Linked DNA regions of Homo sapiens. The protein of the gene in region 1 purifies or fractionates together with the protein of each later gene. This does not show direct contact. Each region holds a gene or a part of one and is shown in the gene's direction. Other genes may lie near its edges.

Region 1 (3,326 bases):
TGGGGAAACCAAGGCAGAAGGAATCACACACACAAATAGATGGAAGGCACTGGATTTAAGAGTCCATAACGACTACTCTCTTTCTCTCCTAAGCCAGAGGGAATTGAGAGAGGGATGCAACAGTCAGGCTGATGGAAATTAAAGTCAGCTTTATTTCTGAAATACTGATGAGAGAGCAGAGCTTAGATATAAAAAAAAGTCATGAGCTTCCTTGCTGAGCCCTGTGTGCTCAGAGCTTCCTCCCTGACCCATCTGTCAGGGTGCAGAGTGGCCAGGAGTGTCCAACCGGTGGATGTTCATCCCCGCAGAAGCACAACAGGTACATGACCTGTGTGTCCCCCATAGCACCAGACACGCTAAAATGGAGCAAAGCAGCATGAAGTGTGGGTCTGTCTAGATGGGGGGGTGAATGTGCAGTGACTGGTTGATGAAGGCATTGTGTGATACAATAAAGATTCAGCCCTGTTTTGCAAACTCAGATTTGCATTTTAAAGAGGTTTTTTTTTGACTCAGATTTACATTTTACAGAGTTTGTTTTGTGTGTTTTGTTGTTTGTTTTGTTTTGTTTTGTTTTGTTTTTAAGACAGAGTCTTGCTCTGTTGCCCAGGCTAGAGTGCAATGGCATGATCTCAGCTCACTGCAGTCTCTGCCTCTCGGGTTCAAGCAATTCTCCTGTCTCAGCCTCCTGAGTAGTTAAGATTACAGGCATGCACCACCACGCCCAGCTAATTTTTGTATTTTGAGTGGGGACGGGATTTCACCATGTTGGCTAGGCTGGTCTCGAACTCCTGACTTCATGTGATCCTCTCACCTCGGCCTCCCAAAGTGCTTGGATTACAGGTGTGAGCCACCACACCTGGCCTAGAGAGGTAGTTTTTGAGCAGACCTGGGGCAGGAGGTGATGAGCCAGAAGACTAGGTAACCAGATGGGAGACCGATAGAATGAACCAGGAAAGCAATAACATGGCCTGAGCTGGGCCCTAACAGTGAAAATTGAGAATATGGGTCACATAGAAGGATAGGGAGGTCAGAAGGTCATTAGGTGATTGCTTGAATGAGGACATGGAGGGGTTAGTGCTTCTTAGACTTCTGGTTTGGGCACTGGATAGCTGAGCACCTTCACCTCCTCAAGTATTCTTTGCTGTTATCTAGGCAGGTTTGATCTGTGGGACCATGTGTGTGTGTGTGTGTGTGTGTGTGTGTGTGTGTGTGTGTGTGTGTGTGTGTATGTGTTTGACGACAGTTTCATTTTCAGTAGAGCTGCTAAACGAAGCATTCCTTTGTTCTATCTTGGGATGTGTGACAGGCACTCCAGAGGAAAGAGGAATCCGGAAATGGAAGAAGGGTGTGGGCAAAGGGAACAAATCACTCGACGGCATGGAGTCGTACAATTTGCCATTTGGCATGAACATTATAAAAAAATACAGATGCTTCAGCTACTTACCCATCAGCCCAACCTTTGTGGGCTACACATGGAAAGGCCTCAGGAAGAGCGACAACAGCCGGAGTTCAGATGAAGACTCCCAGGCCACGGGATAGCCTTTGCTGTGCCCTGTGGCCTGGCCGCAGTGAGGCATGTATCTGTAGTTCCTTGCTGAGTAACAAGAAGTAAAATACATGTTTGTATATCTACATTTACATTCTGCGCCCCAGAGCTAAGACAGACTGCGAATCACTTTTCTGCTGTGAGGGTGATGGTGCCTGATGCGGTGTCTCGCCTATCTCCTTATTTAAGCCCTTAACTCCTTGCCCTTTGAGAGTGTCCATTGCTGGCCATGGTCACTAAATTTGAAGTTCCAGTCCTCCCTTTGGAGTGGACATTTAAAATCTGCAGCCATTCCTTGCTTCAGTTCCCTTCCACCACCCAGGGCTGGCTTTCCTATAAGCCACCTCCAGGGTCCAGGGGCTTTCTCTCTCTCTCCGAAGCCCCTGGACCTGTTTCCTTGTCATTTGACCCTCGTCTGTGCCCGCGGAGACCTCCTCTGACCAAGGGGCACTAGTATGCCTTGCGCTATCATGACTGACTGGCCCAGTATGATTCTGTTGTCGCTGATCTCCCGGAGGAGGAGGCTGTTGACCTGAAAACAGTGGCGTGGCTCCCCTGTGCCCAGATCTGGCCATGGGTGAGGCCTGCACAGATGTTGAATGAACATCTGTTTGGGGCATTGGAGGGAAAAGGAAAGGACCCTGAAGCCAATATCTGATTCTCGGCTGCACCTTCTCTTGGCCACCCTGGCCCTGACCGGGCCAGCACGTGCACACTGGCCTCTTTTCATTTCACTAGTGGCCGAGACACCCTCTCTGGCATTTATCACTGTTGGCCGGTGTGATGAGTATAGAGTGCCACCCAAGGCACCAGTCACACAAGCTGATGGGCGTCTTGGCTCTGCCGTCATGTGGATGTTATTGTCGCGCGCGTCTATAATTACAAGGTTTTATTCCTATTTAATGTTATTGACTATAGCAGATTTTGGAAATCAGTGTTTTCCATGTGACCCTCTTTCCTTGCATCCCTATTCCTTGTCCCCCACCCACTCTTCCCCCCATCAAGAAAAGAACCAGCATTTGTAAAGCTGTGGACACCATCAGGGAAGCTTGTTGTAACGGCTTTTGAAGGCCAGTAACCATTGTTGTGGTTGTGTTTTGTATTGCTTGATACCATGAAAGTGTAAATACTGTAATGCCTAATCTATTTATCAAAACTGACTACTGGACCGGAGCCCAGAAACCATGGGTCAAGTTACACGTGAATTTGTTTTGTGAAGAAGGGAAGCTGGGGCAGGTAACACGCAGAGCCGCCACGTGGAACGGTCTGTCCGCCGGTCTGTCCCGCTTGCCGGGCTTCTGTTGCAAGTCTTGGCTTAAGGAGACTTCCTGTGGGTTGCCATGTCGCACGTCCGTTAGATCTTGATTTTACAGGTGAGGGTGGTTGCCAAAGGTGATAAGAAAAGCAGCCAACAGGCTCCCTCTCACTTAAGAGAGTTCTAATTAATAACACTAAATTCTTCCTGAGAAATGACTCCTCTTGGTTTGGTTTGAAGTTTTTCAGTGAAGGAAAAGGCCTGAGATAGGAAGCAGTGCCCTCGCTTCATGAGGTGGCACATCTTCGGTGGCCGTTGGCCTGGTCGAGCTTTGGTCAGCTGCGTGGGTGCCTGTCTCCTGTCTCCAGCGGCAGGGCATGGTTCTTGGCAGCCTGGTGTCCACACGGTGCATTCCTGTCCCCCTCGGCCCCAGGCTGGCTCAGCTCTCCAGTGCTGCGGCGCTGTCTTTGCAGCATTGCCATGTCACCGTAGCCCCCTTCACTCTTGGAAGTTTGGGGCTTCAAG
Region 2 (3,500 bases), on another chromosome or scaffold:
AATAGATGCAGAAGAGGCCTTCGACAAAATTCAACAGCCCTTCATGCTAAAACCTCTCAATAAATTAGGTATTGATGGAACGTATCTCAAAATAATAAGACCTATTTATGACAAACCTACAGCCAATATCATACTGAATGGGCAAAAACTGGAAGCATTCCCTTTGAAAACTGGCACAAGACAGGGATGCCCTCTCTCACCACTCTTATTCAACATAGTGTTGGAAGTTCTGGCCAGGGCAGTCAGGCAAGAGAAAGAAATAAAGGGTATTCAATTAGGAAAAGAGGAAGTCAAATTGTCCCTGTTGGTAGATGACATGATTGTATATTTAGAAAACCCTATTGTCTCAGCCCAGAATCTCCTTAAGCTGATAAGCAACTTCAGCAAAGTCTCAGGATACAAAATCAATGTGCAAAAATCACAAGCATTCTTATACGCAAATAACAGACAAAGAGCCAAATCCTGAGTGAACTCCCATTCACAATTGCTACAAAGAGAATAAAATACCTAGGAATTCAACTTACAAGGGATGTGAAGGACCTCTTCAAGGAGAACTACAAACCACTGCTCAACGAAATAAAAGAGGACACAAACAAATGGAAGAACATTCCATGCTCATGGATAGGAAGAATCAATATCGTGAAAACGGCCATACTGCCCAAGGTAATTTATAGATTCAATGCCATCCCCATCAAGCTACCAATGACTTTCTTCACAGAATTGGAAAAAAACTAAAGTTCATATGGAACCAAAAAAGAGCCCGCATTGCCAAGTCAATCCTAAGCAAAAAGAACAAAGCTGGAGGCATCACACTACCTGACTTCAAACTATACTACAAGGCTACAGTAACGAAAACAGCATGGTACTGGTACCAAAACAGAGATATAGACCAGTGGAACAGAACAGAGGCCTCAGAAATAACACCACACATCTGCAACCATCTGATCTTTGACAAACCTGACAAAAACAAGAAATGGGGAATGGGTTCCCTATTTAATAAATGGTGCTGGGAAAACTGGCTAGCCATATGTAGAAAGCTGAAACTGGATCACTTCCTTAAACCTTATACAAAAATTAATTCAAGATGGATTAAAGACTTAAATGTTAGACCTAAAACCATAAAAACCCTAGAAGAAAACCTAGGCAATACCATTCAGGACATAGGCATGGGCAAGGACTTCATGACTAAAACACCAAAAGCAATGGCAACAAAAGCCAAAATAGACAAATGGGATCTAATTAAACTAAAGAGCTTCTGCACAGCAAAAGAAACTACCATCGGAGTGAACAGGCGGCCTACAGAATGGGAGAAAATTTTTACAATCTACCCATCTGACAAAGGGCTAATAACCAGAATCTACAAAGAACGTAAACAAATTTACAAGAAAAAAATCAAACAACCCCATCAAAAAGTGAGCGAAGGATATGAACAGACACTTTTCAAAAGAAGACATTTATGCAGCCAAAAGACACATGAAAAAATGCTCATCGTCACTGGTCATCAGAGAAATGCAAATGAAAACCACAATGAGATACCATCTCACACCAGTTAAAATGGTGATCAGTAAAAATTCAGGAAACAACAGGTGCTGGAGAGGCTGTGGAGAAATAGGAACGCTTTTACACTGTTGGTGGGAGTGTAGACTAGTTCAACCATTGTGGAAGACAGTGTGGTGATTCCTTAAGGATCTAGAACTAGAAATACCATTTGACCCAGCAATCCCATTACTGGGTATGTAGACATCTGTAATTTTTCAAATCCTGCTTTTTATGTCAAAGAGAAAAATGGCAAGGAAATAAACTATTATAAAAGATTTATTTGAGAAAGTTACAAGGTTTATGTTAAGGACCTAGAGTCAGTATTGATAACCTTGTTTTATCTAAAGGAGACTGAATTGCATTCAGTATATTTAATTTGCTAAGACCTAGAATAATCATTAATTCAAAATATATACAGATACCTTAGAACTAAGATAATTATATTTCAGTCATGCTGGATAATTTCTCCATACTGTGTCTTCCTTCTTCATCAATCATTTACTTGTTGATAGTCATGTTTTATCTTTCACTATTCTTTAGTTGGCATTAAACCATAAAATGCTGCTATTTGTGAGGGAACCCATAGATGTAATGCAAGAAGTTGGGGGAAAGAAAAAAGATACTTACTTTTATTTTTGCCTAATGGTTTTTGTGGGTTTGGTTTGGTTTGGTTTTGGGTTTTGGGGGGTTTTTTGGTTTTTTTTACAGAAAAGGTACAAAAATCAAGCCTCACGTGAATAAAATTAGTCCTAGGCAAGAAAGTTTAGCCACTACTGGCCTGACTCTTAAAGTTTGTGTGAAAGAGGGGCATCACTTATTATTATAGCATCTATTGTAATTTTTAAAATTGCAGTTCATCACTCAAGTGACACATCAGAATGTTGACTCTCTAAGAGTTTAAAAATATTTAAGATAACATTTGTTACTGGAAATGACCAAGCATCAGGAGGCCTGGTTGCATAAGTTGATTTAGCCAAACATTGGACTACTGTGTAGTTATGATAAAGATGAAGTAAATGTACATATACAGATACAGAAAGAGCTGTAAAATGTATTATTAGATGAAAAAAGATATAACATGTACCCTGTAATCCCATTTTAAAAAATAAAATTAAGAGGATGTGTATGTGCTATTATATGCATCAATGTTTTTCTAGAAGGATACACAAGCATATTGACATGTTTTTCTCTTTTTCTTGTTTGAAATTTTAATATACATCTAATACTTTCATTAAAATACAGAAACAAAATTACATTTGTATGTAACAAAAGATTGGGAGGAGATGTTTTAAATTTCAGATCTATATTTTGTCCTTGGAAACATTAGAAAGGGCAACAAGATTCTATTTTTATTAGACTTAGAAAACAGTTGTTTAACACAAGATTACTTTTTCCTAGGATTTCCATTTAAACAGGGTTAATTTGGAAGAATCTTCAGGAGTGGAAAACTCTCCAGCTGGTGCTAGACCAAAGAGAAAAAACAAGAAGTCTTATGATTTAACTCCGGTTGATAAATTTTGGCAAAAACATAAAGGAAGGTAAGCAAAATATCAATAAGTAAAAGATTCATTTTTTTAAAGAGAAATTAAGGTGTCATCCACCTTAATGAATTTGAGAAAAAAAAGGGTCATGTAGGTTCGTTCACCCAATGAGTGGGGGCTGTAATTAGATAGTCTGTAGATATTTGTCTTTATTTCTCCATTTCTCACTGATTCCTAAGTTGTTTTTTGTTCATTGTTGTTTTATAGGGACCGCTTCTCCTTTCAATGAGATCATCCTATACAGATAGTCTTTTTCAATTTTGTTGCTGTCTCCACTGACTCTATAAGACCATCTCTGCCTTTCATTTAAATTGGCTTTTGTGATTTTGGGGGTGATTTTTTCCTTTTTGTTACATGTTGCCCTCATGTAAACCTTGTTTTAGATACTTGTGGAGAGAGTACCTAAGCCTAAAAGCCTAG
Region 3 (3,500 bases), on another chromosome or scaffold:
TTGGGTGCCCTGCCCTTGGCCAAGAGCTCCATGGTGGGCCTTTCCTCCACGTCTTAGTTGTCTCCTTAGAAGGGGGACCCTGAGAGATGTGCTGGTTCTGACCCCTCAATTCGCCATGCTGCATAGCCTGGGGCAGGGTGTGGGAAGTTTGCAGGATGTTAGAGGAGTCCCTGATGCTCCAGGGAGGGCTGCGGTGGGCAGTGTCAGCCCAGGCCCCTGAGTCCTGCTCCAGGAGGCCTGTACTCCCAGCAAGCACAACCTGGCTTGCTTCTGGCTGGGGCAAGAAAAACCGGGTTATATGGGCTGGGAGTGGAGGCAGAGGCTTCTGGGCAGCCCAGCCTGCAGCAGCCACGTGGGGCAGAGTCCCTCTAGGAAGCCCTAGGCAGTCTCCTCAACCTGCAAGTCTACCCTGTCCACAAGCAGGAGCTAGAGTGAAGTTCCCACAGACATTGACCCTCATTAGACAAAAGGCCCAAGAACCCAGCCCACGAGGATCTCGATGGAAGGCACGTGGATGTGGTATGGAGGGGCCCTGCTCTGGCAGTCAGGGTCTAGGCCCAGAGCTGGTCAGAGAGTGCAGGGGCCCCCACCAGCATTGCCCCTGAGGCCCCGCCCCTGCTGATGGGGCCCCGCCCCTGCTGATGGGGCCCCGCCCCTGCTGATGAGGCCCCGCCCCATGGATCAGCCCTGCTCCCGACAGGCCCCGCTCCTGTGCCAACCTCCCTGCATCCCCCACCCTCCCCACCGCTGACCTCCAGCTCGGCCCACGAGGATCTGAAACAGCAGCTGGCTTGCATCCTGGCGCAGCGAGCACCATGGAGCCCTACCAACGTCCCAGGCTGGGGTTAGCCCTATGGTGGCGTGGGGCAGAGAGGGGGAGAATCCCAGCGGAGGAAGACTGCTAGGAGGCCTGGGAGAGCTGCTGGGAGGCGGGGCTCGAGCCGTGCCTCCTAGGTAGGCAGGGCCGGGGTAGCAGTAAGAGGAGGAAGGGCCTGCAAGGCGAAGGGAACCGGGCAGGTGAAGGCATGGCCTCGGGACCGGCGGTGCTGGGCCTGGGAGGCAGCCGGGCCAGGTGAAGCAGCGCGGTGAGCCCCCGGGGGCCTGCCTCACCCTCCCTCCGCCCTCTCTCCGTCTCCTGCCTTCAGAGGACGTACATCTTCACCTTTCTCCTGAGCTCCCGGGTCTTTATGCCCCCTCATGACCTGCTGGCCCGCGTGGGGCAGATCTGCGTGGAGCAGAAGCAGCAGCTGGAAGCCGGGCCTGAAAAGGTGAGGCGGGGCCTGGCTGGGGCACGGGCGGGGGCAGGGGGCAGGAGGCGAGGTCAAGGCTAGGGGCTGGAGGCATGGGGCGGGGTTCACGGTAGAGCTGGGGGATGGGGTCAGGGCTAGAGTTGGGGCTTGGCCTGGCTGGGACTGTGGGATGGGGTCCAGGGTGGGGCCAGGGGGTGGGGTCAGGGCTAGGGTTGAGGCGTGGCCTGGCTGGGGCAGGGTCGGGGTCAAGGCTAGGGTTGGGCGTGGCCTAGCTGGGGCTGCAGGGTGGGGTCCAGGGTGGGACCAGGGGGCGGGGTCATGGCTAGGGTTGGGGCGTGGCCTGGCTGGGGCTGTGGGGTCTCGGGGCAGGGTCAGTGCTAGGGTTAGGCATGGCCTGGCTGGGCTGGTGGGGCCTGGGGGCGGGGTCAGGGCTAGGGTTGGGGCGTGGCCTGGCTGGGGCTGTGGGGCGGGTCTGAGTTGGGGCGTGACGCCACACCAGGCTGGGGTGAGGTCTGGGCTGGAGCTGTGGGTTGGGTCCGGGTTAGGGGCGTGGTGGGAGCGGGTGGTGGGGGGCCTAGGCTGGCAACGTGGGCGGAATCCGCTGGTTTGGAGGCTGTGCGGCGTGGGCGAAGAAAGCTGCAGAGTTGCGGGCTGGGTGGTGCGGGGGCCGGGGGCGGGGTCCAGCGGTCTGAGTGGGGCTGGTGTGGGCTGGCGCGGAGTCTTGGCTGGCGCAGGAGGGGCTTGGCCTGTGGTGCGTTCTGGGGGATTGGAGGATGGGGGCGCGGCGCCTGAGCATCGGGCACAGTCCCCTCTCCCCGGGGGCAGAGGCCGCGCGGGCATCTTCCGAGAGGGTCGGAGTCGTTTCAGCCAAGAGGGCCAGTCCCCATGCCCTAGGCCCTGTGCTGGGTGGGGTCGTGCATGCCTGTGGACTAGGGCGCGGGAGCGCGTCGCCTCCCCTCGGGGTCACACCCCTTTCAGCGCTGTCGCCCTTTCAACCACAGGGGGCAGACGGGAGCTCTCCTCTAACTGGATGGCTTGGCTTGGGTTATTTTACTGTATTGCTTTTATGGGTAACTTCTAATTATAGCAAATGGAATTAGTTTTTTGTCACCTTAGAGATGGGGTGGGTTTTTTTAATATAAGTTTATTTAAGTGAAAAAGAAAGTCAACTTAAGGGGAAGGAAGAAGGAACCAAACAGGAGTCATGTGGCGGTTCAGGTTTGGCCAAACCGCAGGTGGCACGCAGTTGGGGGCTGTGCCCAGCACAGGGCCTGGGGTGTGGCTTGGGGATGTGGGAAGCTTGCACCATTTGCCATCTAGTACCCTACTCTGCCCTGTGGGGCCTTACTCTGTATCCCCTGCTGCCCCAGGCCAAGCTGAAGTCTTTCTCAGCCAAGATCGTGCAGCTCCTGAAGGAGTGGACCGAGGCCTTCCCCTATGACTTCCAGGATGAGAAGGCCATGGCCGAGCTGAAAGCCATCACACACCGTGTCACCCAGTGTGATGAGGTGAGTGCTCCCTGGGCTCTGGCCAGGGTCTTTGGGTGTGTGCCAGGGTCTGCCCTCGGGAGGGTGGGGGCTTCGGGGACAACTCTGTATGTGGTCCCCTTCCATGTTACTCCCCCAGGAGGGTTGCTGGCTGGCCCCATTCAACCTCCCTTCCCCCAGATGACAGCTCAGCTGGCCAGCAGTGGGCCAGGGTCACCCATGATACTGCAAGCAGGGACCTTGCAGCCCGGTTGCGGGCCTGGCAATCATTGTCTCAACCCTCTCCTGGCCCTTGCTGTCCTTGTCCCTGGAGTGGGAGCCTATTGAGAGTTTGTAAGGCTCTGCCTGTCTTGGATTAGTGAGAGGAGGTGGGGGTAAGGCTTTAAACCGGTCTCCCATTTTTCAAATGTCTTCACCTTTGCCTTTGGTGGAGAGAGAACTGGAGATGCCTGGGCCAACTGGGCCTCCACAGTGGAAGCATTCCCTGTGCTTAGCAGCTCCTGTTCACCCCGAGTACTCCAGGAGGAGCCAGGGACCCCAGGCTGCTCCCAACTAGGGGGCAGAGACTCCTGGCTTTGGCAGAAGCCTTTCCCATGCCTTAAACTGTTCTATGGGCTGCTCCTGCTTCAGGAAGCAGCTCAGTGGGCCGCCTCTGAAAAAGCCATGCTTTTCAGACCCAGAAGCTCAGTCTTGAGCCTGTCTCTGCCCTTAGCCTCGTCCTGCAGCAGGACAGCCCACTGAGACCCCTCCTCAGCAGTCCTCA
Region 4 (3,500 bases), on another chromosome or scaffold:
AAGGAATGAAGGTACAAATATGTATCCACCTTGTCTGGAAAAATAGCAGGAAAGGCATGCCTGCCAAGGACTTTTACACTGAACAGTAAGAATATATTTTAGCTCAGAGACACTGTTTGTTTTCACATTTCAATATTGCTTTAATTAGATATCTTAAAGCTCGTGTACCACAGTGGTTGAAAGAGCAGATGCTGGAGCCAGACTGCATGAATTTGAATCCCAGTTCTACCACTTATTCACTTATTAGTGCACCTTTGGGCATGTTACTTAACCTTTCTGTGCCTCAGTTTACTCATCTGCAAAATGAGCGTGATGATAATAGTTCCTACTTCAAAGGGTTGTGAGAATTAAATGAATTATATAAAGTGCTTAGAATAGTACAAGACACATAATAGTCAGAGACAGAAGTATTAGGTATTATCAATATTGTTAAAGTCCATGTATAAGTTTACTGTACTATTGTTTCTTTTTAACTCTGAAGTGCTGTTTTCACTCTGTCACGTACAGCTTTTATTGCTAGCATCTTGCTTCTGCAGGTCCAGCCTCCTGTTGATTGGCCCTGTGTTTGTGCTGTGGTCAAAGCACTTGCTGTCTGCGGTTCTCCCTTGTGCACACCGGTTCTTTGGTTGCTGTAACAAAAACTACATAGGACACAGACAGGAAACCCGCAGGCTTTGTTTTTTCTTCCTAATTTGGCAGCAGAAGGGGGAAAAACCAGGGCCTTTCACAGACAAGGCTTGTTTTAGAGTTTAATTTTAACTTCTTGTTCGTGTTCTAAAGCTTGGGTTGGTAATAAATCTTGGCTGTATGAGACTAGAGAGAACTGGGCTTTAAAAATATGATTTTAATGTAAAATCTTTTCTAATTGCAGGACAACTTGCCTTTGATGATTTTCAAGAGAGTTGTGCTATGATGTGGCAAAAGGTAATGGAATGTTCCAGGGCCAAGTTCCCCACTAGAACCTGCCAGGGTATTCTCGAGTTAGACAATAGAAGAAAGTCACTCCCTGAATAGTTATGGGCTTCTCCTGGTCTTTAGGGTTCACTTGTGCTTTAACTTCACAGGAGGGATGGGCATTTTCTGCATTGTTTCCCACTCTGTCTTTCTCTCGTGTCTCATGCTGGCGTTGGAAGCTGTAACACTCTGGGAACCTCTCCATAACCCAGTCTGGCTGCCTCACCCTGTTGAGCTCTCTTCAAATTAAGCAAGATCTGACTAATACATTCTTCAGAGATGCTCTGACCGTTTTCATTATGAGAACTAAATGACTTTTCCCAGATCACATTACTGTAATTAACTTTACACTCATTTTGATACTCTTACATATTATAAGAGTGGATGGATGGTATGCTGTATTTACCGAGCTGGCATCCCTCCATCTGTTCATTCAGCCTGAGTCATAACCAGAGTTTCCTCATCCCAAGGGTGGTGCATTTTTCAAAATATGAAAGGAGCCAGTGACAGCTCCAGCCCATTCGCAGGCTTACAGGACCAGCCATTGCCACAAAGGATAAGCTTCCTGTTTACCAGTTGGCCTGAGACAAAGTGGTTGTGCTTCCTGGCCATGCGGGGCTTGGCACACAGTCTGGGCTGTGTCTGTCAGGATGGTGGGCTGAATGCTCGCTCTGTGCTGGGCTGGCTGGGGGTGGCAGGGCCCCCACAGCATGGGTCCTGGACATGGGCCACTCTCGAGAGGGCACCCTCAGGAGGGCACTCAGTTTGGCTTCAGAACCAACCCTGGCATTTGGAAAGGAAGCAAATGAGGGAGGGCGGTCTGGCCTCCTTTCTGGCTTCCTTAATGCTTCTTTCCTTTAGGGGTCCAAGCCGGGCAAATCCCCTTGGCACAAAACTGGGAATCCTACAATAAATTTGTATCTTTTGTTTTTAAGTATGCAGGAAGCAGGCGGTCAATGCCTCTGGGAGCAAGGATCCTTTTCCACGGTGTGTTCTATGCCGGGGGCTTTGCCATTGTGTATTACCTCATTCAAAGTAAGTATCCTGCTAGCCGCCTGCGGCCTGACCTCCTCCTAGCCTGCTCCTGCTCCTCCATCAGAGGAAATACTTGAGATGCTTTGTTTAGATTAGAGAAAGGAGGAGAGGGTGATTTTAAAGGCTAGTCCACCATTTCGTTGGCTATAGCTTCCTCTGTATCCTGTAATCTCAGTTTTTCCAGGAGCAACGAGTACAAATAAAAGGACCAGGACTAATATGCATAAGAAGCCCAGCAAAGCACGATGGGCTTTCAGTCCAGTGCACACACAGGGGCTCCATCAAGATTCTGAGATTATATAAAGAAGGGACAGAGGGAAGGGGAATACCAGATGGTTCACAGGTGGGGAAAGCTGTGGCTGTGCGTCCAGCATTGTCAGACTTTTTTTGCACTTTCATTCTCTGCTGTTGATTTAATGGAGGAGGGACCATGAGCAAGGAACTCTGGCAGGGGCAGAAAATAAAAGCAGAGACCACGATGGCAAAATCCCGACAGATGCCGCTTCCAGCCCCACTGCACTCAAATTTGAATTTGTAAAGACAGGCCACAATTACTGTCAGCAGCCAGGACATTTAAGGTCATTTTAATGCTACTGGTGGCAAAGCGGCAGCAGTTTTTTCTAGACTGGCTTTTTTTAGGCTCCTTTATCCCCACCCAGCTTGGCTCGTCATCCACTCTGCAACATTTTCACTTCTTCCCAGGATGTGAGTGTCACCAGCAGACAAGCAGACAGGCTCCAGTGTCCTCTCCAGCCTTTCTGCACCATCCTGCAGAGTTGGTGGAGTTGCAGAGTCTGGAGGGGGCCTGAGATGAGCGTTCCCAGGAATGATTCAGACTGAATAATTTGGCCTCCTCTTCCCTCTGCCAAAGGGACAGGGGCAGGACATGAGAGGGATGGGTGCACTTTTGGGTCAGGGTTCAGCTTTCTGGTGTGACAGCCTTTCTCCCTTAGGAGGCTGCTAAGTCGGTGAGACCTGGGCACTGCAGCCGACTGCCTGGGTTGAATGGTTGAATCTCGGCTCCAGCTCTTGACCAGCTATGTGGCCTTATGGGGGAGTCCGTCACCTTTCTGGGCATTAGTTACCTTATTGGTGTGATGTGTGGTAATGTTAGTGCTTGTGTATGAGGTGAGAATTGAATCTCACAACACAAGAGCTGTTGAACATTGTGAGATGTGTGGAATATTGAGAACAGTGCCTAGCCATAGAAATCACTCAATAAAGATTAGCTGTCTGGACCCTGCTTCTGTCCCTTCTTTTCCTATCATAGCTGGCACCGTGTTCATGCCTGTGGTATTCCCTGTATCCCTATTCCTGGGAAGCAGCCCAGGAGGGGGATTCCCTTGGCCTCTCCAGGGTCAGGTCACCTTTCCCTTCATTAGTGTGATGGGACCTTCAGAAGAGAAGCACTTTCTGCGGCCAAACTGAACACCCTGCTTGGGAAGCCTGCCTCTGCTCCCTCCTTTGGGCAGCTGATTATTAGAACTTACAGCTTCAGGGAGGTGCTTCCC
Region 5 (3,500 bases), on another chromosome or scaffold:
TATCAATTATTTAATACACAGCTTAGTCAAAACCTCCTTCCCTAGCCTAGTTTGTGTCAATTATCTAATAAGATGAATTCTGACCATTTCTTAGACAGATTAGACCTTTTCCTAAGTTTGCCTTTGTTGGTATATTTTCCTCTGTGCCCTTTTGTTCCTACATACCAGATATCTGCCTGCATAACACTAATTTCTTTATATTCATCCTCTTGTTTTTTTAATATGTAAAATGAGAACATTGGTTCAGATCATCTCTAAAGCTAAGGTTTTTTTCCTAATAGTTAAAAAATATTTCTTAGTAAAATAGGGTAATAATACCTTCCTCATATCATTGAGGTTACATGAGATACAGCAAAATGCTTAGCACAACTTATTGGCACATGGCAAACAATTAGTGGTGATGAATGTTGCTTAATAGTGATTTTTTTAAAATCTCTTTAGAAGTTATATAGAATGGGTTTCAGAATTATTTAAGACATTTCTCTGTTTTCTACAAGATCACCTCAGTTTGAGAATTAAAGCCCCATGACATCAGTTTCATAATATCTACCATATTTAGCTGAGAGGCATTACTTTGTGATTAAGATCAAGTTGATGTTACTACTCCCTGGAAAACTGTGTAGCTCTCTGTTATGCAATACAAGGTTTCTAGTTCTCAAATCAAATACCATCTTTATAAAGAGAAAATTAAAATAGCACCTATCCCTTTTATATATGTAACTATGCACACATGGGTGTGTTAGAATTGGGAGTTGAGGTTTATGTATTTCAACTGAGGTTATACTTCTAGTTTATTTAAGGAACACTTATTGAGCATTTATTGTATGTCAGATATTGTACTGGAGAGTGGAGAAATAGAGATGAATAATATGTGATATCTGTCTTTAAGGAATTTATAGTGTAGTAGGGAGTAATTAGGAATGTAAACAAATAATACACTATTATAAATACACTATTATACAGTGATGTTTAGAATACTAAAAGTGTAAAGGAGGGAGTTGTCCAGAAATTTTACAATTTCTGGAACTAATATATGTCATTCAAACTGTAGGCTAGTTTCTGACTCATTTCTTCTTTATGTAAGGCCCAAACTCTGGGTTTTGCTATTTTTAAATATACTAATTATTTCTGTGATCCCAGCATTTTGGGAGGTCAAGGCGGGCAGCTCACTTGAGGTCAGGAGTTAAAGACCAGCCTGGCCAACATAGTGAAACCCCATCTCTACTAAAAATACAAAAAGTTAGCCAGGTATGGTGGCATGCAGCTGCAGTCTCAGCTAATTAGGAGGCTGAGACAAGAGGATCACTTGAACTTGGGAGGTGGAGGTTGCAGCAAGCCGAGATCACGTCACTGCATTCCAGCCTGGGCAACAGAGCAAGAGTCCATCTCAAAAAAAAGATACTAATTCTTTCCTATAATGTATGTTTTCTACAATAAATCATAAATTGGTGTTTTTTTATTAAAGACATAAAAGGAAGCTGTATAGCTTTCCTAGAGCTTTTCATCATTATGAAAACAGAATTAATTATATAATTTTGAAGTCAACTAGGATTGATTTGATTTGGAGTACCTACATGTTCTGCAGTTGCTGTGGAGAGATTTGTTCTGTGGTAGAGTAACTAGTTCAGACATCTGTAGGAGCCTGGATAGACATGGAGGGGAGAGGGATAGCTGCAGTGAATAGCTGCCCTAATGAGGGATGTGCTGGTGAGCTGATTATTTTTCTAGTATTCATTTTATATACGTATTCTTTTTCTGACTTTGCTAACATCATTTTTGTGTGTTCCTAACATCTATTCGCTATGAATTATGTATAATTTGAGACCTATAAAATAATTTTGTATTATCAATGTGCATCGCACATTGGTTTTTTTCTTTGCCTGTATGGATTGTAATGCCAGGACAAAAACACTCTGTCAAGAAAGTTTCAGCTATTGAGAGACTTGTTTCAAGTGAATGGGTTTTTGGCGTTTCGTTTTGATTTTTTACTAGATTTTTCCAGTGACCTAAAGACTGAAGGGAACTTGGTCACACTGGTCACATGTGTAAAGTTTCCAGGCTAACTAATAGCCATAGGAACTACTACTGCTCTTCTCTGTGTGGAGAATTCAGAGATCCAGAATGAGAGCACTCATCTTGACATCATCAGAATGTACCCTAAGAGGTAGCTTACATTCTTCCACATTATCATACCCAAAATAAAGTTCAAGGAACAAAAATAGCCATTTATATAATACAGATGGCAGTGTCGGAATATTAGTTTCTTAAGCAGCTCTGCCAGCGTTGCTTGATGGTAGCCAAACTGGTGCTGGTTAAGCCACAAAATGTAGACTTCAGTCAGCTACTTATCATTGATCTTTGGCACAGTTCACTTATGCAGTTGTTATAAAATTCTGCAATTTTGCAGGATATTGTGGAAACATTGATTATTGTAATCATGAAATAAATGGAATCGTTTGATTCAGGCCAACTACTGAGTAGAGTTGTATTCCAAGAGTCCCTAAATTGATTACTTGTAATTTAAGCTATATTTTCCTGAAGGAACAGTGTACACTATGTGGATAGAGTTTCCCAAGCCAATGCATGTAAGCCTATTTAACTCATTCTGTGATTTAACTCATAAATATTCGTATTGCTAAACTTTTAGTGTTAGGACTGAGCCTCCCTTGGTCTTAGGAGAAAAAAATCAAAAGTATTAATTTTGTCTTTTCAGGGTCTAGGGTTGACCCTAGGCAGACTTTTGAAACAGACTGCTTTTGGCATCTTCCTATTCCTTTATACGTATATTTTAACATACTTGTATTTATCTCTAGGGCTCTATTTCTTGACCTTTTTTTGACCTATGCCCTTACTATGCTTTAACCCTCTATTTTTTAGATAAATCAGCCAAGATTTTATGGCACTTTTCTTTTGGGGGTTTATATTGTAAAAGCAGATATGATGGGTATACTACTTAGAGCTACCACACCTTGAAAAATCACTGCTTTTGAATCTGGATGCGTTTATCAAAATATTCTCTTTATATGGTTCTAGGGCGCTTATTATCCTAGAAGGACCTTTTGGTGGTAAAATTACAGCATATAAAGATATTATTCCAACAAAGGAGTTAGTCTATAGGTTAAAATTGATCTATTCTAGAATTCATGTCCCTAAGGTCATTTTACCTGTCTTTCAAGAAAGCATCTTAAGATACATACATTCCAGTGTCTAACAGCACAAAATAAGTATCCAGTAAATGCTATTGTCCCTTCTTTCTGAAAATGTTAACAATTTTAACAATGGCAGATACTGTGATAGCTATGAGTTATTATTCATAATTCAAAACTACTTAAATATACAACTCAGTTTTAGCCATTATTGCTCAGTTTAGAATATAAGCAAATCAAAAATTTTTAACATACCTGCATATATATTTCACTTAATTGTTTGTCTATTTACCATGATGTTAGCTCCAACAAGAGTAAATGACCATATTTTGGTCAGTGCTTTACTCTCAGTGA
Region 6 (3,500 bases), on another chromosome or scaffold:
ATTTTCTTTGAATTAATCCTGGATAATATGGGAGAACAGGCACAAGAACAAGAAGATTGGAAGAAATATATTACTGGCACAGATATATTGGATATGAAACTGGAAGACATCCTGGTCAGTATGGTCTTCTAATAAAATAAAAATTATTAACAGCCAGAGGCCTTACTATGGTAATAAGTTACTGAACTAAGCATTTTATCTGCATTATCCAGGAAAATCTGTTTCTAATATTTTATTTTTGCCATAAATACTTTGACCTCAAGTATCAGCTTAATTTTATTTTATATTAATATAGCCCTTTTATAGTTTTCAAATAACTTATCTTCCAGGACCCTATTATAAAAATAGCTTCAGATGTGCAAATAAGACTGCATCTTGGTAAGTTTGTTTTATAAATGTGCAGTTAGAATTTTTAAATTATAAATAGATTATGCTTCTGATTATACAGCAGGCATATGAAAAGTAAAATGTTTTCTAATTTCACAACTATTTTGTGGTATTAAAACATTGGGTGTTTTACTGAATACTAAATTGTTCAGATAAACATACAAAGAAGGAAATATTATAAACACATGCATTATGTAATAGGTAAATACCTAAAGTTATATCAATTGGGTTTTTAAAAATGAAATCATTTGCCAGGCATGGTAGCAGGTACCTGTAATCCCAGCTACTCAGAAGGTTAGGGGGAGGATCATTTGAGCCCAGTTCAAGGCTGCAGTGAACCATGGTCACACATATAAATAGATACTACACTCCAATATAGCAAGACCCCATCTCTAAAAACTTAATCATTTGACCAGGCACAGTCTCAGGTTGCAATGAGCCGAGATTGTGCCTAGGCAAACTCCATCCCCCGACAAAAAAAAAAAAAAAAAAAACCTTAGTCATTTCCTTTGGTTGTGTGAGGACTAAGAAAGAGATAATGTACGTAAAACTCCTGATGCTATGCCACTCAGAATAATTTCATGTTACCTATTTTCAATTCACAGTAGCTTTGTTCCCTTGTTAAATAACTACTTATAAACAATATAAATATGTCAGGAGAACTATTATATAACCTTACAGAGAATCTCTAATGTAATATAAATAGTACCTGCCCTTTAATTGAATTGTGCAGCCATCTAACTTAAAATTGTGTTTGGATAAAAAACATAAAGCATATTTTGAAAAAAACTTTTTTTGAGACAGGGTCTCACTCACTCTGTTGCCCAGGCTGGAGTGCAGTGGCACCATTATGGCTCATTGCAATCTCAACCTCCTGGACTCAAGTGATCCCCCCACCTCAGCCTCCCAAGTAGCTGGGACCACACTTGGTGCTACCATACCCATCTTTTTGTAGAGGCAGAGTCTGTCTGTGTTGTCCAGCCCAGTCTTGAACTCCTGGGTTCAAGGGGTCCTCCTGCCCTAGTCTCCCAAAGTTCCAGGATTACAAGGCATGAGTCACTGCACCCAGCCTCATTTTTTAATTAAGTTAAAATTTCTGAGCATTCTTTAATAATAAAATTATTTTATTTATCTCCAGGAATCCATCAACAGCATCAAGTCCAGACTAAGCAAAAGTGGGCACATACAAACTCTGCTTAGAGCATTTGAAGCTCGTGATCGAAACATACAAGAAAGCAACTTTGATAGAGTCAATTTCTGGTCTATGGTTAATTTAGTGGTCATGGTGGTGGTGTCAGCCATTCAAGTTTATATGCTGAAGAGTCTGTTTGAAGATAAGAGGAAAAGTAGAACTTAAAACTCCAAACTAGAGTACGTAACATTGAAAAATGAGGCATAAAAATGCAATAAACTGTTACAGTCAAGACCATTAATGGTCTTCTCCAAAATATTTTGAGATATAAAAGTAGGAAACAGGTATAATTTTAATGTGAAAATTAAGTCTTCACTTTCTGTGCAAGTAATCCTGCTGATCCAGTTGTACTTAAGTGTGTAACAGGAATATTTTGCAGAATATAGGTTTAACTGAATGAAGCCATATTAATAACTGCATTTTCCTAACTTTGAAAAATTTTGCAAATGTCTTAGGTGATTTAAATAAATGAGTATTGGGCCTAATTGCAACACCAGTCTGTTTTTAACAGGTTCTATTACCCAGAACTTTTTTGTAAATGCGGCAGTTACAAATTAACTGTGGAAGTTTTCAGTTTTAAGTTATAAATCACCTGAGAATTACCTAATGATGGATTGAATAAATCTTTAGACTACAAAAGCCCAACTTTTCTCTATTTACATATGCATCTCTCCTATAATGTAAATAGAATAATAGCTTTGAAATACAATTAGGTTTTTGAGATTTTTATAACCAAATACATTTCAGTGTAACATATTAGCAGAAAGCATTAGTCTTTGTACTTTGCTTACATTCCCAAAAGCTGACATTTTCACGATTCTTAAAAACACAAAGTTACACTTACTAAAATTAGGACATGTTTTCTCTTTGAAATGAAGAATATAGTTTAAAAGCTTCCTCCTCCATAGGGACACATTTTCTCTAACCCTTAACTAAAGTGTAGGATTTTAAAATTAAATGTGAGGTAAAATAAGTTTATTTTTAATAGTATCTGTCAAGTTAATATCTGTCAACAGTTAATAATCATGTTATGTTAATTTTAACATGATTGCTGACTTGGATAATTCATTATTACCAGCAGTTATGAAGGAAATATTGCTAAAATGATCTGGGCCTACCATAAATAAATATCTCCTTTTCTGAGCTCTAAGAATTATCAGAAACAGGAAAGAATTTAGAAAAACTTGAGAAAACCTAATCCAAAATAAAATTCACTTAAGTAGAACTATAAATAAATATCTAGAATCTGACTGGCTCATCATGACATCCTACTCATAACATAAATCAAAGGAGATGATTAATTTCCAGTTAGCTGGAAGAAACTTTGGCTGTAGGTTTTTATTTTCTACAAGAATTCTGGTTTGAATTATTTTTGTAAGCAGGTACATTTTATAAAATGTAAGCCCTACTGTAAGGTTTAGCACTGGGTGTACATATTTATTAAAAATTTTTATTATAACAACTTTTATTAAAATGGCCTTTCTGAACACTTTATTTATTGATGTTGAAGTAAGGATTAGAAACATAGACTCCCAAGTTTTAAACACCTAAATGTGAATAACCCATATATACAACAAAGTTTCTGCCATCTAGCTTTTTGAAGTCTATGGGGGTCTTACTCAAGTACTAGTAATTTAACTTCATCATGAATGAACTATAATTTTTAAGTTATGCCCATTTATAACGTTGTTTATGACTACATTGTGAGTTAGAAACAAACTTAAAATTTGGGGTATAGAACCCCTCAACAGGTTAGTAATGCTGGAATTCTTGATGAGCAATAATGATAACCAGAGAGTGATTTCATTTACACTCATAGTAGTATAAAAAGAGATACATTTCCCTCTTAGGCCCCTGGGAGAAGAGCAGCTTAGATTTCCCTACTGGCAAGGTTTTTAAAAATGAGGTAAATGCCGTATAT
Region 7 (3,500 bases), on another chromosome or scaffold:
TACTTAGAAGGCTGAGGTGGGAGGATCACCTAAGCTCAGGAGGTCGAGGCTGTCGTGAGCCAAGATCATGCCACTGTACTGCAGCCTGGGTGACAGAGTAAGACTCTGTTTCAGAAAACAAAAAGCAAAATAACTCTTTTATAATAAGAGTACTAGTCACTTTGCTAGATATTTTGCGTACAATATATCATTTCATCCTCACAACAACCTTTGAAGAATAGGAAGAGACTTATTAAATATAAGGTAACTTAGCCTCAAAAGAGTTAAGTAACTTGCCCAGGGTTACATAGCTTATAAGTGATGGAGCTAGAATTTTAATCCTGGTCTTATTCTAAAGACCTAATAACCAGGCTTCTAATTTCTTATAATTCTTTCTTGTGTCCCCACTTTACTTGCAAAAAAACTGGAGACACTTGTAAACAGTTTCCCTAAGCACCAAAAAATACATCTGTAGCAGAAATCACCTGGGGAATCTTTCAGTCTGTGGATGTCAGAGCTCCACCCCAGAAGAAGAATCTCCAGAGAGGGGTCTTGGAAATCATTTTTTGTTGGCTTTGTTGTTCTGTTGTTTCTTTTAGCTCCCTTACTTAGTAGGCAAATATCTTAGTATTTTTTAAATAAAGTAGATATAGCTTGAAAAAGGGGGCAGTTGATAAATTAAGGAGGCAACAGTTTTGAATTTCTACATAGCATTTTTTTCTAATTATATGTAATTTACACTAATAAAAACTAGTTTAAGAATAGTATAAAATGTTAGGTTGAACAATATGAAATTGCTCATAATTGACCATTTTTTACCTATAAAAATGGCAATTTTATATTTCACTGTGTTTATGTTTCTCAGTTTTTCCCCCAGGGATATGTTTCTGTTAGTGCAGCCATACCATTTAAGTTTTTATTCTAAAATTTAACTTTTGTCATTTCTTGTTCCAGTGATTGCAGTAATAGCGGCCACCCTCTTCCCCCTTTGGCCAGCAGAAATGAGAGTAGGTGTTTATTACCTCAGTGTGGGTGCAGGCTGTTTTGTAGCCAGTATTCTTCTCCTTGCTGTTGGTAAGTATTGTTATTATAAAATTGACCTCAAGAAGGTTGGTATTGAGCAGTTGGACTGTAATTTGGAGCTTCAGTAAAGCTTAAGAAAAATTAATGGAGGTAAATCAAGAAATATATGGTACTACTTTCTGAGTCAAATCTCAAAACTCAGGCTTGGTAAGATGTGTTCTGTCTGCAGAAAAAGGATTTAATACATCTTTAAAAAAATTTTTTAATAAGATTATTTTTTATTGACAGATCATAATTGTATACATTTATGGGGTACAATGTGATGTTTTGGTGTATGTGTACAATGTGGAATGTTTAAATCAAGCTAATTAACATAATTAGCATATTGATCACCTTTCTTGCCTATCATTTATTGTGAGACATTTGAAATTTACTTATTTTGAAATATACCATACATTATTATATCTTAATCTGCAAATAGATGTGCTTTAAAAATTAGTTATGGCAGAGGCGTTTAATATTTTTGCAGTGGTAGATCATTTATTAGACATAATACTTTCAGTAAAACATTTTTTAATTTTGACTTAGAACAAATGCAACATCTAAATAATCTATGCATATATTTAATAAATGATTCTAAACAATTGATTTGCCATTTTGGGAAAAATCAATAATTTTCACCCAAGTACCAAAATACTAGATGCAATAAGGAGTTAATGTTTTAAAAATCAAATAGGAAAACATAAGTAAATGAATTTTCCGCATTTCTGGATGATTGGGGTCTTTCATAGATTATTTGTTTAGAGGCAGGGTCTTGCTCTGTCACCCAAGCTGAAGTGCAGTGGTGAGATCATAGCTCACTGCAGCCTTGAATTCCTGGGCTTAAGCAATCCTCCTGCCTCAGCCTCCCAAGTAGCTAGGAGTACTGGTGCATTTCATCATGCCTGGCTTTTTGTGGGGGAGATAGGGTATCACTCTGCCCAGGCTAGTCTCGAACTCCTGACCTCAGGTGATCTGCCCTCCTTGGCCTCCCAAAGTGTTGGGATTACAGGCGTGAACCACCACGCCCAGCCTCCTTCCTCTGATTTGGTAACCTCTGGCAGCAGAAAAATCCCCTGCTGGTTTTGCATGGAACACGGGCACATTTGTAGGCCAAGAAACAATATCTAAGCCTGTTTGAATTTAGTGTCAGTGTAATACCTGCATCAAGAAGGAAAAGTCATAAACTTTGATCTGACATTAGACATAATAAAATTGGTGCTTTTTGCCTTTCAAATTCCTGAAATTTAGAAACTCCTTGGAAATTTTTAGCAAAGGTTTAGCTCCACTGAATAGAATTATTCTACTTGCTTATTTTTAAATTAAACCAGTGTTCACAATAGTTTATGGTTATTATGTAGTTTTGCTGTTTAAAATATTGTTTCTTCAGTAGTCTCTTTAAATAAATTTTCATTGTAAATATGCTGTGGATTTAAATATGCATTATGAACCAAATAGTCTTCTGAATTATACCAGGAAACAAACCCAACATTTTATTTTGATTCTCTTAGAAAATGCAATTCCAAATATACTTTCAAATAATTAGATATTTCTTTTATATTATTCTTTGAAGTCTTTATATATATTATGTATATCGCATATAATATATATCATGTATATTATATATGAATATATATGATATATAGATATATGATATATCATAATATTATATATCATATATATCATATAATATATATCATATGATATGTCATATATATTATATGATATCTCATATTTATATGAAATATATTTTTATATATATTCATTTTTTGGAGACAGGGTCTTGCTCTGTTGCCCAGGGTAAAGTACCATGGCAGAATCATAGCTCACTGTACCCTCAAACTCCTGGGCTCAAGCAGCCCTCCCACCTTAGCCTCCTGAATAGCTGGGACTATAGGAGCATGTTGCCATGCCTAGCTAATTTTTTTTTTTAAAGTCAGGGTCTTGAAATATTATGTATTGGTCACAATTATATCTGGTGTTTCTTTGAATATGCATTATTAATAATGCCATTTAAAATAAAACCTTTGGCAGTTTTCTAAAATCTGTCGCTTTTAGCATAGGAATGTTATTATAGTACATGTCACAGCTTCCCCATAATTCTTCCCTTTTCACTCTCGGTAATCTAGTGCCACATAGCGAAAAACTGTAAAACATGAACATTTTGCCATACCATTTGTATGTGATAAGAAATTAGGTTAGTGCCATTTCTATATTGCTTTTTCTTTGGTTTGATACAAGATTTCATATTATGAATCATCTGTCTTACAATCCTGTAAAACCTATCATTGCATCATAATTGGAGAAAAAAATGTACAGCCTCCTTAAATTCATTATCTCTGTTTATCAGTGGAATTTATTCTTAAATCATAATTTTAAGCATATTTACCTTTTCCGTTTATACCACGAAAGATTCTAATGTGTACAGGAGTCTTTCAGAATATTTATATTCTTGTGAA

The links.
Region 2: the proteins of SLC23A2 (region 1) and SCFD1 purify together in Homo sapiens (affinity purification with mass spectrometry; one large-scale study listed by BioGRID and IntAct). This does not show direct contact.
Region 3: the proteins of SLC23A2 (region 1) and RASGEF1A purify together in Homo sapiens (affinity purification with mass spectrometry; one large-scale study listed by BioGRID and IntAct). This does not show direct contact.
Region 4: the proteins of SLC23A2 (region 1) and COA1 purify together in Homo sapiens (affinity purification with mass spectrometry, with the first as the bait; one large-scale study listed by BioGRID). This does not show direct contact.
Region 5: the proteins of SLC23A2 (region 1) and GLCCI1 purify together in Homo sapiens (affinity purification with mass spectrometry; one large-scale study listed by BioGRID and IntAct). This does not show direct contact.
Region 6: the proteins of SLC23A2 (region 1) and TMED5 purify together in Homo sapiens (affinity purification with mass spectrometry; one large-scale study listed by BioGRID and IntAct). This does not show direct contact.
Region 7: the proteins of SLC23A2 (region 1) and SEC62 purify together in Homo sapiens (affinity purification with mass spectrometry; one large-scale study listed by BioGRID and IntAct). This does not show direct contact.

The regions. Positions count from the first base shown.
Region 1 is NC_000020.11:4,855,185-4,858,510, reverse strand, and holds part of SLC23A2 (solute carrier family 23 member 2), read left to right. Parts: intron 1-1,306; coding exon 1,307-1,539; 3' UTR 1,540-3,326. UniProt on the Homo sapiens protein: Sodium/ascorbate cotransporter. Mediates electrogenic uptake of vitamin C, with a stoichiometry of 2 Na(+) for each ascorbate.
Region 2 is NC_000014.9:30,667,319-30,670,818, forward strand, and holds part of SCFD1 (sec1 family domain-containing protein 1), read left to right. Parts: intron 1-2,937; coding exon 2,938-3,077; intron 3,078-3,500. UniProt on the Homo sapiens protein: Plays a role in SNARE-pin assembly and Golgi-to-ER retrograde transport via its interaction with COG4. Involved in vesicular transport between the endoplasmic reticulum and the Golgi.
Region 3 is NC_000010.11:43,201,066-43,204,565, reverse strand, and holds part of RASGEF1A (ras-GEF domain-containing family member 1A), read left to right. Parts: intron 1-698; exon of another isoform or gene 699-844; intron 845-883; exon of another isoform or gene 884-954; intron 955-1,145; coding exon 1,146-1,268; intron 1,269-2,620; coding exon 2,621-2,758; intron 2,759-3,500. UniProt on the Homo sapiens protein: Guanine nucleotide exchange factor (GEF) with specificity for RAP2A, KRAS, HRAS, and NRAS (in vitro). Plays a role in cell migration.
Region 4 is NC_000007.14:43,646,024-43,649,523, reverse strand, and holds part of COA1 (cytochrome c oxidase assembly factor 1 homolog), read left to right. Parts: exon of another isoform or gene 1-85; intron 86-871; 5' UTR 872-909; coding exon 910-924; intron 925-1,889; coding exon 1,890-1,989; coding exon of another isoform or gene 1,990-2,066; exon of another isoform or gene 2,067-3,052; intron 3,053-3,500. UniProt on the Homo sapiens protein: Component of the MITRAC (mitochondrial translation regulation assembly intermediate of cytochrome c oxidase complex) complex, that regulates cytochrome c oxidase assembly.
Region 5 is NC_000007.14:8,073,296-8,076,795, forward strand, and holds part of GLCCI1 (glucocorticoid-induced transcript 1 protein), read left to right. Parts: intron 1-3,500.
Region 6 is NC_000001.11:93,152,914-93,156,413, reverse strand, and holds part of TMED5 (transmembrane emp24 domain-containing protein 5 isoform 1 precursor), read left to right. Parts: coding exon 1-114; exon of another isoform or gene 115-156; intron 157-329; coding exon of another isoform or gene 330-378; intron 379-1,525; coding exon 1,526-1,744; 3' UTR 1,745-3,500. UniProt on the Homo sapiens protein: Potential role in vesicular protein trafficking, mainly in the early secretory pathway. Required for the maintenance of the Golgi apparatus; involved in protein exchange between Golgi stacks during assembly.
Region 7 is NC_000003.12:169,987,307-169,990,806, forward strand, and holds part of SEC62 (translocation protein SEC62), read left to right. Parts: intron 1-933; coding exon 934-1,053; intron 1,054-3,500. UniProt on the Homo sapiens protein: Mediates post-translational transport of precursor polypeptides across endoplasmic reticulum (ER). Proposed to act as a targeting receptor for small presecretory proteins containing short and apolar signal peptides.